Linked DNA regions of Homo sapiens: region 2 is linked to region 1. Evidence: fine-mapped expression QTL. A gene starts in region 1. The other region holds a variant in brackets. All regions are shown on one strand. Distances are from middle to middle.

Region 1 (9,157 bases):
CAGAGGGCAGGGGCAGATGTTGTGAGACTGTAAGCCACAGGAAGGAGTGTAGTTTTAGATGATGGTTTTGAACAGGGGCTGGGCATGATCTGTGTGGCTCTGTGTAGCAGGCAAGCATGGAAACAGGAAACTGGTCAGGAGGCTGCGGAGGGACAAGCTGATTGGTGACTGGATGACCCCTGGCTTCCCCTCCAGTGTTGGGCTTCAAGACCTCTGATAATGCAACCTCTACATGGCAAGTGATTCACAAGAAAGTTCTTTCTGCCAGCAAGGCCAGACCCCAACGGTAAAGCTCAATGTACTCCCTGACCCTTCCCTACAAATATGCCAGGCTGCAGGGGTCAGAGCTCCTCCCCAAGGAACAGCAGCAAGCCCTTCTGCTCTGCTTGGGCCTGAGACTAACACAGGTGACATTCGCCCTTGCCTGCAGCCTGACGGGAGGGATGATGGGGCTTGGACTATGCTGGTGGGAGTACAGATAGAAGGGAAAGGGGAGGAAAAAGGCGGGCATTGAGGGGCTCACCCTGGGAAACTGGGTAGCTGGTTTAGTGGGTGAACCAGTAAACCGCCCCAGGCTGGTTTACACATGTACTGAAAAGAAGAAGCCTGAGGCTGGAAGTTTGGAGGAAGAATTTTGGAGGGAAAATCATGAGCACTACTTTGTTAAGATGTCTGAGAGAGGCTGGGTGCAGTGGCTCACGCCTGTAATCCTAGCACTTTGGGAGGCCAAAGCAGGTGGATCACCTGAGGTCAGGAGTTCAAGACCAGCCTGGCCAACATGGCAAAACTCCGTCTCTACTAAAAATACAAAAATTAGTCGGGTGTGGTGGCAGGTGCCTATAATCCCAGCTGCTCTGGAGGCTGAGGCAGGAGAATTGCCTGAACCCGGTGGGTGGATGTTGCAGTGAGCCAAGATCACACCACTGCACTCCAGCCTAAGCAAAAAAAAAAAAAAGTCTGAGAGACATCCAGGTTGAAATGTGTGTGTGTGTGTGTGTGTGTGTGTGTGTGTGTGTGAGACTTAGGGAGAGGTCTACAGGAGATAGAAATTTTGGAGGCCTCAGCTTGCAGATGATGCTTAAAGCCACAGGACTGACTGATATCACCTCGGAAACCCAAGGAAACAAAGATGACCAGAGGTGGCACCTGGAACACGGGCTCACTCAGAGGATGCAAAAAGAGCAGGAGCTGGTAAAGGAGCCTGAAGGAGCTGCCAGGGATGGGGATGGAGAAGCAGAAGCATGGGGTGAGGTGAAAGCCAAGAGTAGTGGCTGTGTTGGGGTGAGGGAATGATCCAAGGGGCCACTGTCTGAGCTGAGACTTGAAATGCGTCCTGAGATTGGGCAACTTAGAGGCAGTTGGAGCCCCTGCAGAGTGGGAAGGAGGGAAAATTAGATGAGCCTGAGGGAACAGTAGTGGGCTCTAGGGTGGGGAAAATGAGCAAAACACAGCCACACACAGTGGCTAAAGTTTGGATGAAACTCATGTGCATATATATGGAGAGAAAGAAGCCAGATTCAAAAGAAGACCCCAGTGATCCATGCATACAAAATTCCCAAAAGGCAAAATTAGTCTGTCCTGTCTATGGCTACAAACACAAGTACATTTGCCACCTCTAGTTTTCTATAAAGCCTAGAGTTGTTAAATAAAGTTTTCCATAGTTGCCCATAAATAAAAGCACAGGTTGTACTACAAGATGGGAGAGTGGTTCCTTCTTGCTGGGTTGGGGGTTGTAATTGGGAAGGTGTATGTGGAAGCTTCTAGGGACTGGCAGGGCCAATGTCTTGCTTTCTTTTACTAACTTGGCTGGCATCTATTTTTCAAAACAAGCTTATGGGAATATATATGCCATAAAATTCACCCATGGTAAGTATACAACTCAATGACTTTTATATTACTTATTATTTATTTATTTATTTAAGACAGGGTGTCACTCTATCACCCAGGCTGGAGTGCAGTGGCGTGATCATAGCTCACCGCAGCCTCGACCTTCTGAGCTGAAGTGATTATCCCACCTCAGCCTCCCAAGTAGCTGTGACCACAGGCACATGCCACCATGCCCATTTAATTTTCATATTTTTTGTAGAGACAGGGTTTCGCCATGTTTCCCAGGCTGGTCTCGAACTCCCGGGCTCAAGCAATCCACCCACTCGGGGTTCCCAAAGGGCTGGAATTACAGGCGTGAGCCACCGCCCCGGCCTAACTCATGATTTTTAACACATTGACTGAACTGTGCAACTCTTGCCACATCTGGTTTTAGAACATTCCCGTTGCCCCAGTAAGACCCCTCACACCAGATGATAACCACTCTTCATTCGTACACCCCAGTCCCAGGCAACCACACATCTGCTTTCTGCGTCTATAGATTTGTCTTTCCTGGACATTTTATATAAATGGGTCATACAATATGTGAGTTTTCACATCTGGCTTCTTTGATGTAGCGTAATGTTTTATGAGGTTCATCCACCTCGTAGCTTGTATCAGAACTTCATTTCTTTTCATTGCCCAAGAGTATTGCATGGTATAGACGCACCACAGTTTATCCACTCATCAGTGGACACAGGTTGTTTCCACTTTTTGGCGATACATCATGTTGCTATGAACATTTGTGTGCAAGTCTTTGTGAAGATATATACTTTTTTTTTTTTGAGACGAAGTCTTGCTCTTGCCGCCCAGACTGGAGTGCGATGCTGCGATCTCGGCTCACTGCAACCTCCGCCTCCCAGGTTCAAGCGATTCTCCTGCCTCAGCGTCCTGAGTAGCTGGGATTACAGGCTTGCACCACCACGCCCAGCTAATTTTTGTGTTTTCAGTAGAGACAGGTTTTCACCATGTTGGCCAGGCTGGTCTCAAACTCCCAACCTCAAGTGATCTGCTCACCTCAGCCTCCCAAAGTGCTGGGATTACAGGTGTGAGCCATCGTGCCTCACAATATACTTTCATTTCTCTTGGGAAGCCTCCTGGGGTAGAATCTTCCAGATGACCCAATCATATGGTACATTTCTGTTTCATTTTTTAAGAAACTGATAAACTGTTTTAAAAGTAGTACTCCATGTCTTGACCAGGGTGGGTGGTAGTTATACGGGGTCTCATTTTGTAAATTATTAGTTACATTAGATATTTATTCACTTTCTGTATTTCTTCTATTTTATAACTTTAAAAGAGTCAAGAAATAAATTGGGGGTGGGGTGGTGAGTGGAGTCAACTCTGGGAAGGTTTTTTGTAAGGGGTAGCAGTTAGGAATGCTGTTCTGGAAGCTGTATGGAGCACTGGAGGAGGAGCAACTGGGGAAACAAATCCTACAAGAATTTCACAGGAGGGGCTCCAAGACCCATCAGGTTCAGCCCCTGGGCAGGTATATGCAAAAGCACATGCCAATATATGCAAATAAGTTAGGATCTCCTGGGGTTTCCTCACCTTGGGGGTCTGTCTCTAATGGTTGTGACCAGGATGGTGGGCAGGCCCCAGGGCTTTGGGGTGCTGGCCTTGGGCACTCACAGCCTGGCTTTTCTGGGAGCCTGCAGTCCTGCAGGGGCTGAGGGTGGAGTATCATCTGCTAATCCCTGGCCTGCTGAGTCCACCACTCTCCCTGATCCCCTCACGCTTACCCTGGATACTGGCCACAGCTAATCTCCACTCCTGGAGACTCAAGGGCTGGCAGACAGTGCAGTGCCCTCTTCCCTGAGGGTTCCAGGGAGGGGAGATCCCTCTCAGCATCCAGATCCTCCTAACGGCAGATCCTAGAGTCCTTGCCTAACACAGAGGAGAGCCTTGAGTCCCAGAGAGAGGCGGTAATTAGCCCAGGATTACACAGCCTGCAGTGGGCTCAGTAGCCATTTCTGGCCTGCCTTGGCCTGACTACCTCCAGGGAACCCCAGCTCCCCATCTGACATTTCCCAAGATGCCTGGCCTGTGCTAAGGCCTGGGAGACCACAGCCTTCAGGAAGGCTGGAAGGGAGTGGCCAGAGCACAGGAATTCTGGCACAGGCTCTTGTTAGAGCCTGTAGTTGCCAGGGTTGCTAAGGAGTGGGTGCCTCAGAATCAGGCTGCAATGGGCATTGTCTGTGCACAATGTTCCTTTATTCTGCTGCTGTCCATAATAAGGGCTCGTCCACCTCCCTTCCTCTTCTGCCCATTGAGCAGTCAAAGAACTGAAAGTCCTTATAAGCCTGTGCACCTGGGCCTGGGCCCTACAGATAAGGTAGCTGCTATTGGTGAGTCAGAAGCAGGGAGCCCTTGCTCTCTTCCCCATATCCGTGATCCCCCTCCCTGTCCCTCCCCAGGCAGTCACATCCCCTAAGGCAGCTTCCCCATGCCTTGTCACCATGCCCCCTCCCTGCTCCTCCATGATCTAAGGTCCTCTCTCCTCCTGCCACCCTAGCTTCCACCTCCACCTCTCACCTCTAACTCAGGGTCAGGAAGAAAGCAAGCTGTCTCAACAAATTCTCACTAAAGTGTAAATGACTGAAAGGCTCCTGGGACTATCTGCTTTTTAAAGGGAGGCACTGGGTATCCAGTAATGCTTTTCTAGTTTAAATATATCATGTTGCTCCCCTTCCTGAAAATCTTTCTGAGTCAATCTGTAGAATTTTGGGTAAATAGCTAGGGCAAGTCCATAATTATTCACCCAGAGGTATACGGCATACTAAGCTACATTCTGAACCCGCTTGCTGCTGCACTTTCCTGCTTATTATTTAAGAATAGACTCGCCAGGCAAGGTGGCTCACACCTGTAATCCCAGCACTTTGAGAGGCTGAGGCGGGTGGATCACTTGAGGTCAGGAGTTCGAGACCAGCCTGGCCAACACAGTGAAACCCCGTCTCTACTAAAAATACAAAAACTAGTCACATGTGGTGGTGGATGCCTATAATCCCAGTTCCTCAGGAGGCTGAGGCAGGAGAATCACTTGAACCCAGGAGACAGAGGTTGCATTGAGCCAAGATGGCGCCACTGTACTTCAGTCTGAGCAGAAGAGTGAGACTGTCTCAAAAAAAAAAAAAAAAAGAAAAGAAAGAAAGAAAAAAAAACGAATAGACTCAAATACCACCTCTTTTAGACCATTCCTTGAATGTCCTAACCCCAGCCTCCCCAGAAACACACACTCTGTACTGACCTCCCTCACAGCCATGGCACAATGTGAGTGTGTGTGTGTGTGTGTGTGTGTGTATGTGTGTGTTGGAAGGGGAGTGGGAGGGTTGTCTCTGTTATCTTCTGTTATCTGAATGTTCCTGCCACCTCATGCTGAGCTCCAGAAAAATGGCCTGGCACACAGTAGGTGCTAAATAAATGTTTGGCAAGTAGACATCGGCACTGGCCAAGGTTGTTTTCATGCAGAGAAGGGTGTCTGGCCAGCATGAGCCCAGGGTGAGCCCCTTAGAACCCTCTGCCCCCCAGCTATGGCCCGCATCATTGACCTGGTGCCCTGGGACGATGGCTCCACACATGTGTATGCCTCCCCGGCCATCCTGCTTCCCATGGAGCGGCAGCGCAACCAGCTGGCGGGCGTGAAGCAGCAGCTCTACCACCCAGCCCTGCCCACCCTGCGCCACATGGACAGGGACACCGTCAAGGCCTGCCTTCCTGATGAGCACTGCCAGTCCACCACCTACTGCCGCAAAGGTTAGGACACCAGTGTAGGATCCCCTTTGGGGAAGGGGCAGATGGTTTCAGGAAAGAGGGAGACAGATGCAAGGATGAAAGAGGCCAGTCCCAGCTCTGCTGCTCCCTGCCCAGGACACTTTGGCCAGGTCTGAGCCTCTGTTTACTGCTCAGTACAATGAGGATAATTGACAAGGCCTACCTCAAAGTGTTGTTGTGGGGTTAGAAGGAGATAAGGCACAAAAAACACTTAGAGGCTGGGCGCAGTCCCAGCACTTTGGGAGGCCAAGGCAGGCTGATAACCTGAGGTCAGGAGTTTGAGACCAGCCTGGTCAACATGGTGAAACCCCATCTCTACTAAAAATACAAAACTTAACCAGGCGTGGTGGCAGGCACCTGTAATCCCAGCTACTTGGGAGGCTGAGGCATGAGAATTGCTTAAACCTGGGAGGCGGAGGTTGCAGTGAGCCGAGATCACATCACTGCACTCCAGCCTGGGCAACAAGAGTGAGTCTCCGTCTCAAAAAAAAAAGCACTTAGAGTAGTGCCTGGCACATAATATGTGCTCAAAAAGTATTGCTGATGCCATTGTTGTTATTGTTGTTTTGTTTTTTGAAGACAGTGTCTTACTCTGTCGCCCAGGCTGGAGTGCAGTAGCATGATCACAGCTCACTGCAACCTCGACCTCCCAGGCTCAAATGATCCTCCCATCTCAGCCTCCCGAATAGCTGGGACCACAGATACGTGCCACCCTGCCCTGCTGATTTTAAAAAATTATTTGTAGAGACAGGGTCTCCCTATGTTGCCTAGCCTGGTCTCAACTCCTGGGTTCAAACGATCCTCCTGCCTTGGCCTCCCAAAGTGCTGAGATTACAGGCATGAGCCACTGTGCCTAGCCTGTTGTAATTAATGGAGAGAGAACTGGGCAGAGGTTGACAGGTGCAGTGGTAGGAGTCATAACAGTAGTAACTTCTGCCCAAGCATCTCTGTATGTGGAAAAGAGAGAGAAAGACCTCTCCTCACAGCCCCCATGCAGGAGAGGAAGACGTGTGGGCCTTCAGGGCAAAAGAGCCCCACGGGCCTAGTGAATAACCCCGCATGGACTGAGGAGCTTGCGTGTGGAGGGATTTAGAAGGTATTTAGCAGATAAAGTCAACAGGAGTAGGTGCAGGCGGGGCAGGGTAGGAGGCCAAACAGGGGGAGTGCAGGCCCATACCTAGGCTCCAGCTTGGGTGACAGGTGGGCTGAGGGTGTCAGAGACCGCACGGAGATTACCAGAGTTGCCACATGGGCCCTAATGGGAAACACAAGTGAGGGAAGTGGGTGGGGAGGCCGTGGGGAAGGAACACTCCACAGGGAAAAGGGGCACCCACACCTGCCCTATTTAAACGGCAGCCACGGGGTTCCCCACAGACTGTGCTATGTTGGAGGGGCCAGCCAGGTCACCAGTTCTTCCAATTTCCCGCTTCTGAGAGAAGCCAGGAATCTAGATTTTTAAGGAAAGCTCTGATGTAGATATGTATTTTATTGTAAGCATATGCTTTAAGTAAAAGTAATAGTCAGAACTTCAAAGCTCAAAATGCTATAACAATATGCACAGCAACAAGGCTCACTCCCACTGCCCCCGCATACAGGTAACCACCCCCCCACCACATTCTTAGTTTCTGATGTCTCTCCCTGGTTTACTAATGGGAATATAAACACATGTTATTTTGCTCCCCAACTTTTTATTACTGTTAACTGAAAACCCAGAAATTTGTAAATTTAGGCAGGGTACGGTGGCTCACACCCACAATCTCAGCACTTTGGGAGGCCAAGGCAGGCAGATCACGTGAGGTCAGAAGTTCGAGACCAGCCTGGCCAACATGGTGAAACCCCATCTTCACTAAAAATACAAAAATTAGCCGGGCGGGGTGGCGGGTGCCTGTAATCCCAGCTCCCAGGCTGAGGCAGGAGAATCACCTGAACCCGGGAGGCGGAGGTTGCGATGAGCCGAGATGGAGCCACTGCACTCCAGCCTGGGTGACAGAGCGAGACTCCATCTTCAAAAAATAAAAATAAATGTATAAGTTTAGAAAAGGAGACTTTATTTCTTACAAGGGGTTATAGCTGCCAGGTGGCCATCCCACAGGCTGGAAAGTGTGCCTCCAGCTTAAGCCCAAAGATAGGCATGTCAAAGGAGGAGGGGTTGGGTAAGAGCTTTATGTTCAAAGGGTTGGCTAAACATACATATTCAATAGTTTATAGGAGGAGCTATGAATATTCATGAAGATAGTACTGACATGGGCATATTGAACAAACATGCATGTAACATACAACCCATGTTCGCTTTGAGGTGGAGACTTAACCTTTAAATGTATTACAATTAGTCCCTATACGTCAAAAGTTCTTTTCAGGACGCGAAGCCCAGCAAGTGAGCAGCCTCTGTATGCTGGGCAGGACCAGTCCATGGTTGGTGGTCTTCTTACCTGGAGAAAGTTACTGAAATCAGCCTCTTATGCAATCAAAGGCATAGCTGTGGCTGGTGGATCAGGGGGTCAGTTCATCAGCATCTGTGAGCTGTATGAGTTGTAATTGTTTTAATATTGCTTATCTCAAGTCCAGGGCTAGAGAAAAAGAAAAACCTCATGGCAATTAAAACATAGCTTATTTATTTTTGTGTTTTGCTTTTCGTTTTGTTTTGTTTTGTTTTTTTAGACAGAGTTTCTCTCCATCACCCAGGCTAGAGTGCAATGTCAAAAACATGGCTCTTTACAGCCTCGACCTCCCAGGTTCAGGTGATCCTGCCACTTCAGCCTCCTGAGTAGCTGGGACTACAGGCACACACCACTATGCCAGGCTATTTTTGTTGCTGTTGTTGTTGTTTGTTTGTTTTGTGTGGAGACAGGGTTACACTATGTTGCCAGGGCTGGTCTCCAACTTCTGGGCTCAAGTGATCCTCCAGCTTCAGCCTCCCGAAGTGTTGGAATTACAGGCGTGAGCTACCACGACCAGCCTGTAGTTTATTCTTTAAGTGTAGGGGTGCGTGACTTAACCCTTGCCTGGCATGGCCTTAGGTCCTGTTAATAATCTGGTATCTTGGCCGGGCGTGGCGGTTCACGCCTGTAATTCTAGCACTTTGGGGGGCCAAGGCAAGTGGATCGCCTGAGGTCAGGAGTTCAAAACCAGCCTGACCAATATGGTAAAACCCTGTCTCTACTAAAAATACAAAAATTAGCCAGGTGTGGTAGTGTGTGCTTGTAATCCCAGCTACTGGGAGACTGAGACAGGAGAATTGCTTGAACCCAGGAGGCGGAGGTTGCAGTGAGCCGAGATCGCGCCATTGCACTCCAGCCTGGGCAACAGAGTGACACTCCGTCTCAATAATAATAATAATTATTATTATTATAATAATAATTATTATTATTATTATTATAATTTGGTATCTTATTGCCACAAAGAGTCTGTTCTCTTAGTCTTGTAATCTCTCTCTCTCTCTTTCTCTTTTTTTTTTTTTTTTTTTTTTTTTTTTGAGACAGAGTCTCACTCTGTCACCCAGGCTGGAGTGCAGTGGCGCTAT
Region 2 (9,157 bases), 34 kb after region 1:
TACTTCCAGGAAATTTTTTTTGGTAGTTCTTTTGGATTTTCTCCGTAGACAATTATGTCATCTATGAAGAAAAACACGCTGGGTGTGGTGGCTCACACCTGTAATCCCAGCACTTTGGGAGGTCAAGGTGGACAGATTACCTGAGGTTGGGAGTTCAAGACCAGCCTGACCAACATGGAGAAACCCCATTTCTACTAAAAATACAAAATTAGCCAGCCGTGGTGGGACATGCCTGTAGTCCCAGCTACTTGGGAGGCTGAGGTAGGAGAATCACTTGAACCCAGGAGGCAATGGTTGCAGTGAGCCAAGATTGCACCATTGCACTCCGTCCTGGTCAACAAGAGCAAAACCTCGTTTCAAAAAAAAAAAAAAACAAAAAAAAAAAACGGACACAGTGGCTCACACCTGTAATCCCAGCACTTTGGGAGGCCAAGGCGGGCAGATCACAAGGTCAGGAGTTCAAGACCAGCCTGGCCAACATGGCGAAACCCCCATCTCTACTAAAAATACAAAAATTAGCTGGGCATGGTGGCACATGCCTGTAATCCCAGCTACTTAGAAGGCTGAGGCAGGAGAATTGCTTGAACCCGGGAGGTGGAGGTTGCAGTGAGCGGAGAGTGCACCACTGCACTCCAGCCTGGGCAACAGAGCAAGACTCTGTCTTGGGGAAAAAAAAAAGAAAAACAGGCTTATTTCTTCTTTGCTAATCTGTATACCTTTTATTTCCTTTTCTTGCCTTATTGCATTAGCTAGGACTTCCAGTATGAGTTGAAAAGCAATAGTGAGAGGAGGCATCATTACCTTGTTCCTGATCTTAATGGGAAAGCTTTGGAGTTTCCTATCAGTTAGCTATAGGTATTTTTAGACATTCTCTATCAAGTTAACAAAGTTCCCCTCTATTCCTAGTTTTCTGAGAGTTTTTATCTTGAATGGGTATTGGATTTTGTCAAATACTTTTTCTGTATTTATTGATAGGATCATTTGATTTTTCTCCTTTAGCCTATTGATTGGATGGATTACATTAATTGATTTTTGAATGTTGAGCCTGCTTTGAATACCTGGGATAAATCCCATTTAGTTGTGGAGCATTATTCTCTTTATATGTTGTTGTATTCAATTTGCTAATATTTTCTTGAAAATCTTGCATCTCTGTCCATGAGAGATATGGGTCTGTAGTTTTCTTGTAATGTCTTTTTCTGGTATTGGTATGAGGATAATGCTGGCCTCATGGAATAAGTCAGGAAGTATTCTCTCTGCTTTTGTCTTCTGAAAGATTATAGATAATTGGTTTAATTTTTTCCTTAAATGTTTGGTGGGATTCTCTAGTGAACCGAACCCATCTGGGCCTGGTGCCTTCTGTTTTGGAAGGTAATTTTTGTTTGTTTGTTTGTTTGTTTGTTTTTCGGAGACAGAGTCTCACTCTGTTGCCCAGGATGGAGCACACTGGCATGATCTCGGCTCACTGCAACCTCTGCCTCCCAGGTTCAAGCTATTCTCCTGCCTCAGCCTCATGAGTAGCTGGGATTACAGGCACCTACCACCACGCCTGGCTAATTTTTGTATTTTTAGTAAAGACACAGTTTCGCCATGTTGGCCAGGCTGTTCTCAAACTCCTGACCTCCGGTGAACCACCCACCTTGGCCTCCCAAAGTGCTGGGATGACAGGTGTGAGCCACAGAGCCCAGCCGGAAGGTAATTATTTATTTATTCAGGCTGGGTGCAGTGGCTTACGCCTATCATCCAGCACTTTGGGAGGCCAACACGGGCAGATTGCCTGAGTTTGAGACCAGCCTGGGCAACATGGTGAAACCCTGTCTTTACTAAAAAAATACAAAAAAATTAGCCATGCTTGGTGGCGGGTGCCTGTAATCCCAGCTACTCGGGAGACTGAGGCAGGAGAATCGCTTGAACCTGGGAGGCGGAGATTGCAGTGAACCAAGATTGCACCACCGTACTCCATCCTGGGCAAAAGAGTGAGACTCTGTCTCAAAAAAAAAATAATAATAATTCAATTTGTTTAATAGATTTAGGCCTATTTAGATTATTTCTTCTTTTGTGAGTTTTAGCAGATCGGGTCTTTCAAGGAATTGTTCCAGTTCATCTAGGTTATCAAATTTGTGGACATAAAGTTATTCATGGTATTCTTTGATTATCCTTTTATTATCCATGGGATCTGTAATGATGTCCCATCTTTCATTCCTGATTTTAGTAATTTGTGTGCCCTCTCTATTTTTCTTAGTTAGCCTGGCTAGAAACTTGTTGATTTACTGATCTTTTCAAACAACCAGCTTTTGGTTTTATTGATTTTCTTTATTGATTTCTTGTCTTCAATTTTATTGATTTCTGCTCTAATTTTAATTATTTCTTTACTTCTGCTTACTTTGGATTAAATTTGCTGTTGTTTTTCTACTTTCCTAAGATGAAACTCAGATGATTGACTTTAGATCTTTTTCTTTTTCTTTTTTTTTTTTTTTTTTGTGAGGGAGCCTCGATCCGTCACCCAGGCTGGAGTACAGTGGCGCAATCTCAGCTCACTGCAACTTCCGCCTCCCAGGTTCAAGTGGTTCTCCTGTCTCAGCCTCCCAAGTAGCTAGGACTATAGGCACGCACCACCGTGCCCAGTTATTTTTGTATTTTTAGTAGAGACGGGGTGTCACCATATTGGTCAGGCTGGTCTCGAACTCCTGACCTCCAGTGATCCACCTGCCTCTGCCTCCCAAAGTGCTGGAATTACAGGCGTGAGCCACCATACCCGGCCTAGATCTTCTTTTCTAATATATGCATTTGATGCTATAAATATTCTTCTAAGCACCTTTTGCTGCATTCCACAAGTTTTGATAAGTTATGTTTTCATTTTTATTTTGTTCAAAATATTTATAAAGTTTTCTGGAGATTTCTTCTTTGATCCGTGTGTTATTTAGAAGTGTGTTTTTTAATCTCCAAGTATTTGGGGATTTTCCAGCTACATTTCTGTTACAGACTTTTAGTCTAATTTCATTGTGGCCTGAGATCAGACATTGTATGGTTTCTAGTCTTTTATATTTAAGGGGTTCTGATGCTTACTATTTTTCTTCAGATTGTATTTTTGCCCTTTAGTATGTCTTGTAATTTTTCCTCGATAGCTGGACATGAAGTACTATGTAAAAGGAACTGTGGTAAACAGGCCTGTATGAATGTGGTGGTGAGGTGGTGGGGGACAAGAATCCTTCTGTAGTCCTGTGATTGGGTGTCAATCTTTTGGTGAGCCGGTTCCTCTGGACTGGGAACTTCCCACACGCTTCTCAGAATTTTCCCCTTCCTAGGTGGGACAGGATGACCAGAAGGTGCTGCAGTTTGGTATTTCACTTCCCCTAGGTCAGTTAAGAGTCTGATAAAACACTTTCAGGTTAGGCTGTAATTCAGTAAGTTTCTCCTGAGGGTAGACCTTGTTAAGAAAAACTGGAGGCTGGGCGCAGTGGCTCACGCCTGTAATCCCAGCACTTTGGGAGGCCGAGGCGGGCGGATCACGAGGTCAGGAGATCGAGACCATCCTGGCTAACACGGTGAAACCCCGTCTCTACTAAAAATACAAAAAAAAAATATTATCCAGGCGTGGTGGCGGGCGCCCGTAGTCCCAGCTACTCGGGAGGCTGAGGCAGGAGAATGGCATGAACCCGGGAAACGGAGCTTGCAGTGAGCCGAGATTGCACCACTGCACTCCAGCCTGGGCGGCAGAGCAAGACTCCTTCTCAAAAAAAAAA[A/T]AATAATAATAAATAAATAAATAAATAAATGAAAATAAAATTATATTAGAAGACATAGACATAGGCTGCTGTCCAAGTAATTTTCTCCCCAAACCCAGAGTAATAAGGACTTCCCTCTGCCTTCTGGGCTTCTTCATTCAGCCATGGCACCTTGGCTGAGAGAACGGCCCGCCCTCTTTACTCCTCCCCTCCAGATGAAGCCAAGGAGGAGTTCCTGGATCTGCTTGATGTGTTGCTGCCCCATGCCCAGACATATGTCCCCCGGCTGGTAAGGATGAAGGTGTTCCACCTCAGCCTGTCCCAGAGTGTGGTTCTGCGCCACCACTGGATCCTCCCCTTCGTGCAGGCTCTGAAAGCCCGTATGACCTCCTTCCACAGGTGAGTGCTTCTTCCCTCTGCCTCTCCACTCCCTCCCCTCCATGGCTTCTCCTCCTCTCCTGAGCTACTGCGGGCATTACCCCAGCAGGCAGGCAGACCTAAAGATAGAACACGGCCCCTCTCCTGGGGCTGCCTGCTCTACTTCTCATCCTCCGTGACCTTGGGCATGCCGTGGAAGCTCTTGACACCCCTGATGCCGTATCTGCTCTGTAGGAAAAGCCAGCTGTTTTTCTGTAAGCTCTTGCTCAGTACTTCCAGCACTTCTGTGACCAGATGTGTTGAGTTTTTTTCCACACCAACAAATTATCCAACTCTCCAGACACCCACTGGGTGTCCTATAATCGAACTCAATTCTGACACTAATAACCCAGGGTTAGTGCAGACTTCATAGGTTAAGGACTCAGTCCCACAAGACTGCGCTCCTTGTCAGACACCATCTGCAGTGTTGAGCTCTCAGGTTACCCACAACATCTGTCTGATTTCACTACAAATCAGAGGTTCTGTGGACCCTCTCCTCAGGTTTGATCATTTGCTAGAATGGCTCACAGAATTCAGGCAAACAGTCCACTTACTAGGGCGCCAGTTTATTACAAAGGATATGTTACAGGATACACATGAACAGCCAGATGAAGAGATAGGTAGGGTGAGGTCTGGAAGGGTCCCGAGCATGGGAGCTTCTGACCCTGTGGAGTTGGGAGTGAGCCACCCTCCCAGCACATGGGTGCGTTCTTAATCACCAAGGGAAGCTCCTCAAACCCTGTAGTTCCAAATTTTTACGGAGGCTTCATCACATAGGCATGATGGATTATTAACTCAGTCTCTAGCTTCCCTCCCATACCGGGAGGGTAGGGGGTGGGGCTGAAAGTTCCCAGCTTCTAATCATGCCTTGCTCTTTCTGTGATCAGCCCCCATCCAGGACCTCATTGCCTCATTGGAACCAAAGATGCCCCTGTCACCCAGGAAATTCCAAAGGATTTAGGAGCTCTGCGTCAGGAGCCAGGATCACAGACCAGATAATAGAACAAAAGATGCTCCTAGCACCCCTGCTGCTTAGGAAATGACACAGGTTTTAGGATCTCTGTGTCAGGAACTGGAGGCTGAGACCAACACATATGTTATCATTTCACAGTGATAGGTCAAACAGGTCATGGTAATGGTGGGAGCTACCTCACTGGGGGCCTATGGGGGTGAAAGGAGATCATGGGTGCCCTCAGCACACCACTTGGGTGAAGGGTTAGTACCAGACCCCACTTCTGGTTTTGTCTGCCAGCCTGGGGCTTTTTTTTTCCCCTTACCTATTAGATTATTTCATAACTCTTTTCCTACCAGAAATGCATCTCCTGCTAGACTGGTCCAGATCAAAACCCTGCTCTTTCACTGAGGCTCTCCCGGTTGGCATATCCTGCAGAATCCCTCCGTCCAGAGATCAGTCGGTCCTGTGGTTGTTTCACAGGTGACTCCTCTGTCCAGAGATCAGTCGGTCCTGTGGTTGTTTCACAGGTGACACCTCCGTCCAGAGATCAGTTGGCCCTGTGGTTGTTTCACAGGTGACCCCTCCATCCAGAGATCAGTTGGTCCTGTGGTTCTTTACCCCTGGTGGTCATTTCACTCACCCTCATATGCAGTCGTTCCTGTGTCCATCTTCCTTCCTGGAGCCCACATTCCTCCAGGCCAGGACTGTGGCTTCTCTCTGAATTGCCCCACAGCTTTTTTCCAAGTGCTCTGCTCACAGTAGACATCAAATAGATGCTTGTTGAGTCATGGTGCGGGAATGAGGGAGCCTAGAGAATATCTTTCTGGATCCTCTACTGTTGATACTAGAAGGAGCCTAAGAAGCCACCCGGCTGATGGTTTTCTGACCCTGCCTTTATCAGCAGAGCCTTTTTTCAAATGAGGTGTTGCACAAAAGCCTGATGTGTGGCTGTGTAAAACAGAAATAAACAGTCTTCTAGCCAAAGCCCCATTCCCACAGTTCAGGGGGCCATAGGCCCAGGAATTCCATAGGATGTCACTGCCCAACTAGGAAACTGCTCAGTTAGCTGAACCCCTTCTGAGGGCCAGAGGAGGACAGGATTTGTCCCAATCCAGACACTCGGCCAGGGAATAAGGGCTGAAACTCATCTCTCAACCTAGTCCAGCCCTCCCCCTCTTTGGATTGTCATTATCAAGTTGATTGATTGTATATTATCAGGACTCTCTTAACCACAGGTGCCAGAAGCCCATGCCAGAAGCCCAACCCAAAGTGGCTTAAACCAAAGAGAAATTTATAGGCTGGTATAACTAAAAGATTCAGAGGTAGCACTGGCTCATGCATGAGTGGACCGGGGTGACAAGATATCAGATGGCACCTGACTGTCACCACCACAGGCAGACTGTTCACCATCTCAGCTCTGTCCCCTTCCTTTGTCACAATGACGAAGCCACCGCATCTCCCGGCTAATGGTGTACCAGCCTGGAAAGACAGCCTCCCTCTCTGATTGGCTTCAGCACAAGTCACAGGAATGACTGCCTGGTCTGACCCGTCTCCTGTGTGCTTTCTTTGGGAGTAAAGAGTTAACAGGCCCTTCCCCCTTCCACAGAGAGTGCTTCCCTTATCCTGCGGAAGCTCTGCCCCTGGATGAAGGAGGAGAGCGGCTATGTTAGTGCTGATGACTGGCACACTGCACTTGCGCTAGGAAGACAGCATGAACTGCACCCCTCCAGGGAAGCCACGGCCTGGGCTCCCCTGCATACAGTGGTTCCTTAACTGGGCACGAGTCCCTTGCTGGGACTTAGGAAAACTCTGCCTAAAGTCCATTGCAAGAAATACTGATCCCTGTGGGATGTATATGTGGCTGGTTCCCTTGCTCACTGAGAGACTAGAAAACAGCACCTGGACCCCTGGGCTGGTTCCCTCTGAGGAAAGGATCTGTGTCATGAGTGAAGCCCGGGCAGGTGTGGTCTGTTCAACTTTGATCATCTGGTTGAGCCTAAGGTGACCAAGAGTGGGCGGTGCACCCCTGATTCTGTTGCTGTGACTGAGGAAATGCTAAGCTCTGTTTGGCCAGGCCTGGGCAGCCTGCCTCTGGAGTAGGGGTGGAGAGCCATCCTGCAACACGAGGTTACCAGGAGAAGGAGTTTTGGTTGGGCACAGACATCCAGTGTCCACTCCAGGATGTTTGGGAGACACCTTGAGAACTCTTCCTAAAAGCTGCACTTAACCAAGCTCCTGGTGGTTCTGTGATCCCTTACATTTTCTCCAGAGGCAGAGAGTTGGCTGACTGACTTTTGCCCTTGGGCAGATTGTGAGGCTCTACCCAGCATGCTGGTATATTATGTTCCCTCAGATGGGGGTGAGACCCTTGGCCTGGGGGCTGTAAAATGATCTGTTTCTGTGAGGAGACTTTCCATGGTGAGATTGCTAGTGTCTCAGAGAATAAAGGACAGAACCAGTCCAAGTCAAAGCACTTACCTAGCTGAGCCTGACTCTTCCCGTGTTATTGATCTGAGGGGTGGGTGGGTGGGGGCATCTGTCTCGATTTCACACCAACAGACCTATTCCCCTCACGAAAGCGTCATAGGTGACAACAAGGACTCTGGAAACAGGCAGACTGACTGTTCCAATCCTGGCTCACCAAATTCAGCTTCACCATGCCTCTGTTTCTTTGTCTGTAAAATGGGCATAATTGTAGGCCTGCTCACAGAGTTGTGTGAGGATTCGAGAAACAGAGTGTGCAAAGGCTTGAGCTCAGCCCTGACACACGAAGAAATGTTGTCGTGATTGCTTAGATGAAATCGGAGTCATCTATTTTAAAAAACTGCAAGAAATGAATCAGCTGTTAAGTGGTCCATTATCACCTACTTGATCAATAAGGCTTTCTCAGTTCCCATCAGTGAAGTTGAGATAGTCTCAAATTGTTTATCGAAATGAACTGCTATTAACAAAGTAAAATTTTTACTAGCACCTGGATGATGTTGTGTGTTACTCGGGCTGGGTGATTTTAAGGTCTTGTCCAGCTCTAATGTTTAAGGTTCAGTATACCACCTGCATAATGGGGTGATAATATGAAGTGCAAAATGAGTTAACTATATTTTCAAAGTGCTGTTTTTTTTTAACATAAGCTATTTTTTCTGCTTTTTTTCTTACGATTTTTCCTGAAATATGGTCTTCTAAATTTCAGATTCTTCTTTACTGCCAACCAGGTAAAGATTTACACCAATCAAGAGAAAACCAGGTGGGTCCTCCCAACCCCCAATCACCATCAGAGGAAGATTCTTTGGTGCAAAAATTGAGTGCTTTGTTTCTGGACTTGTTTGTCCCATTTTTTGTTTGCTTTTAACCAACTCTATGACTATAAAGGCAGCTATCCCCAAATCTGAACCTTTCTTTAAGAAAAATAACTGGGAGATCCCAGGCACAGTAGCGCATGCCTGTAATTCCAGCACTTTGGGAGGCTGAAGCAGGTGGATAGCTTGAGCTCAGGAGTTCCAGACCAGCCTGGGCAACATGGCCAAACCGTGTCTCTATGAAAAATACAAAAATTAGCTGAGCATGGTAGTGTGTGCCTGTAGTTCCAGCTACTTGGGAGGCTGAGATGGGAGGATCGCTTGAGCCCTGGAGGTCGAGGCTGCAGTGAGCCAAGATTGCACCACTGCACTCCAGCCTGGGCAACAGAGTGAGACCCTGTCTCAAAAAAATAAAAGGCCAGGTGCGGTGGCTCACGCTTGTAATCCCAGCACTTTGAGAGGCCAAGGTGGGCAGATCACCTGAGGTCAGGAGTTCGAGACCAGCCTGCCTGACATGGCGAAACCCCATCTCCACTAAAAATACAAAAAATTAGCTGGGTGTGGTGGCAGGCGCCTGTAATCCCAGCTACTCGAGAGGCTGAGGCAGGAGAATCGCTTGAACCCTAGAGGAGGAGGTTGCAGTGAGCCAAGATCACACCACTGCACTCTATCCTGGGTGACAAGAGTGAAACTCTGTCTCAAAAATAAATAAATAAATAAATAAATAAATAAATAAATAAATAATGACTGGAGGAGCATGTAGTGGGGTGGTG

Evidence for each region. PIP is the estimated chance that this variant, and not a neighbour inherited with it, causes the effect.
Region 2: its variant is fine-mapped to the expression of SPMIP8 in whole blood (TOPMed, PIP above 0.99).

What each region holds. Positions count from the first base shown.
Region 1 is chr16:57,972,421-57,981,577 of GRCh38, forward strand. It overlaps SPMIP8 (sperm microtubule inner protein 8), which reads left to right and starts at 4,124. Exons shown (of 8, transcript NM_199456.3): 1 at 4,124-4,214; 2 at 5,395-5,619. The coding sequence starts at 5,397.
Region 2 is chr16:58,005,995-58,015,151 of GRCh38, forward strand. It overlaps USB1 (U6 snRNA biogenesis phosphodiesterase 1), which reads left to right. Exons shown (of 7, transcript NM_024598.4): 3 at 3,935-4,118; 4 at 8,279-8,332. Among named protein-coding and RNA genes, the nearest start is that of USB1, 9.2 kb to the left of the region's middle. RefSeq lists enhancers at 6,217-6,749, 6,750-7,281. The variant A/T (reference allele first, on the strand shown) is at 3,741.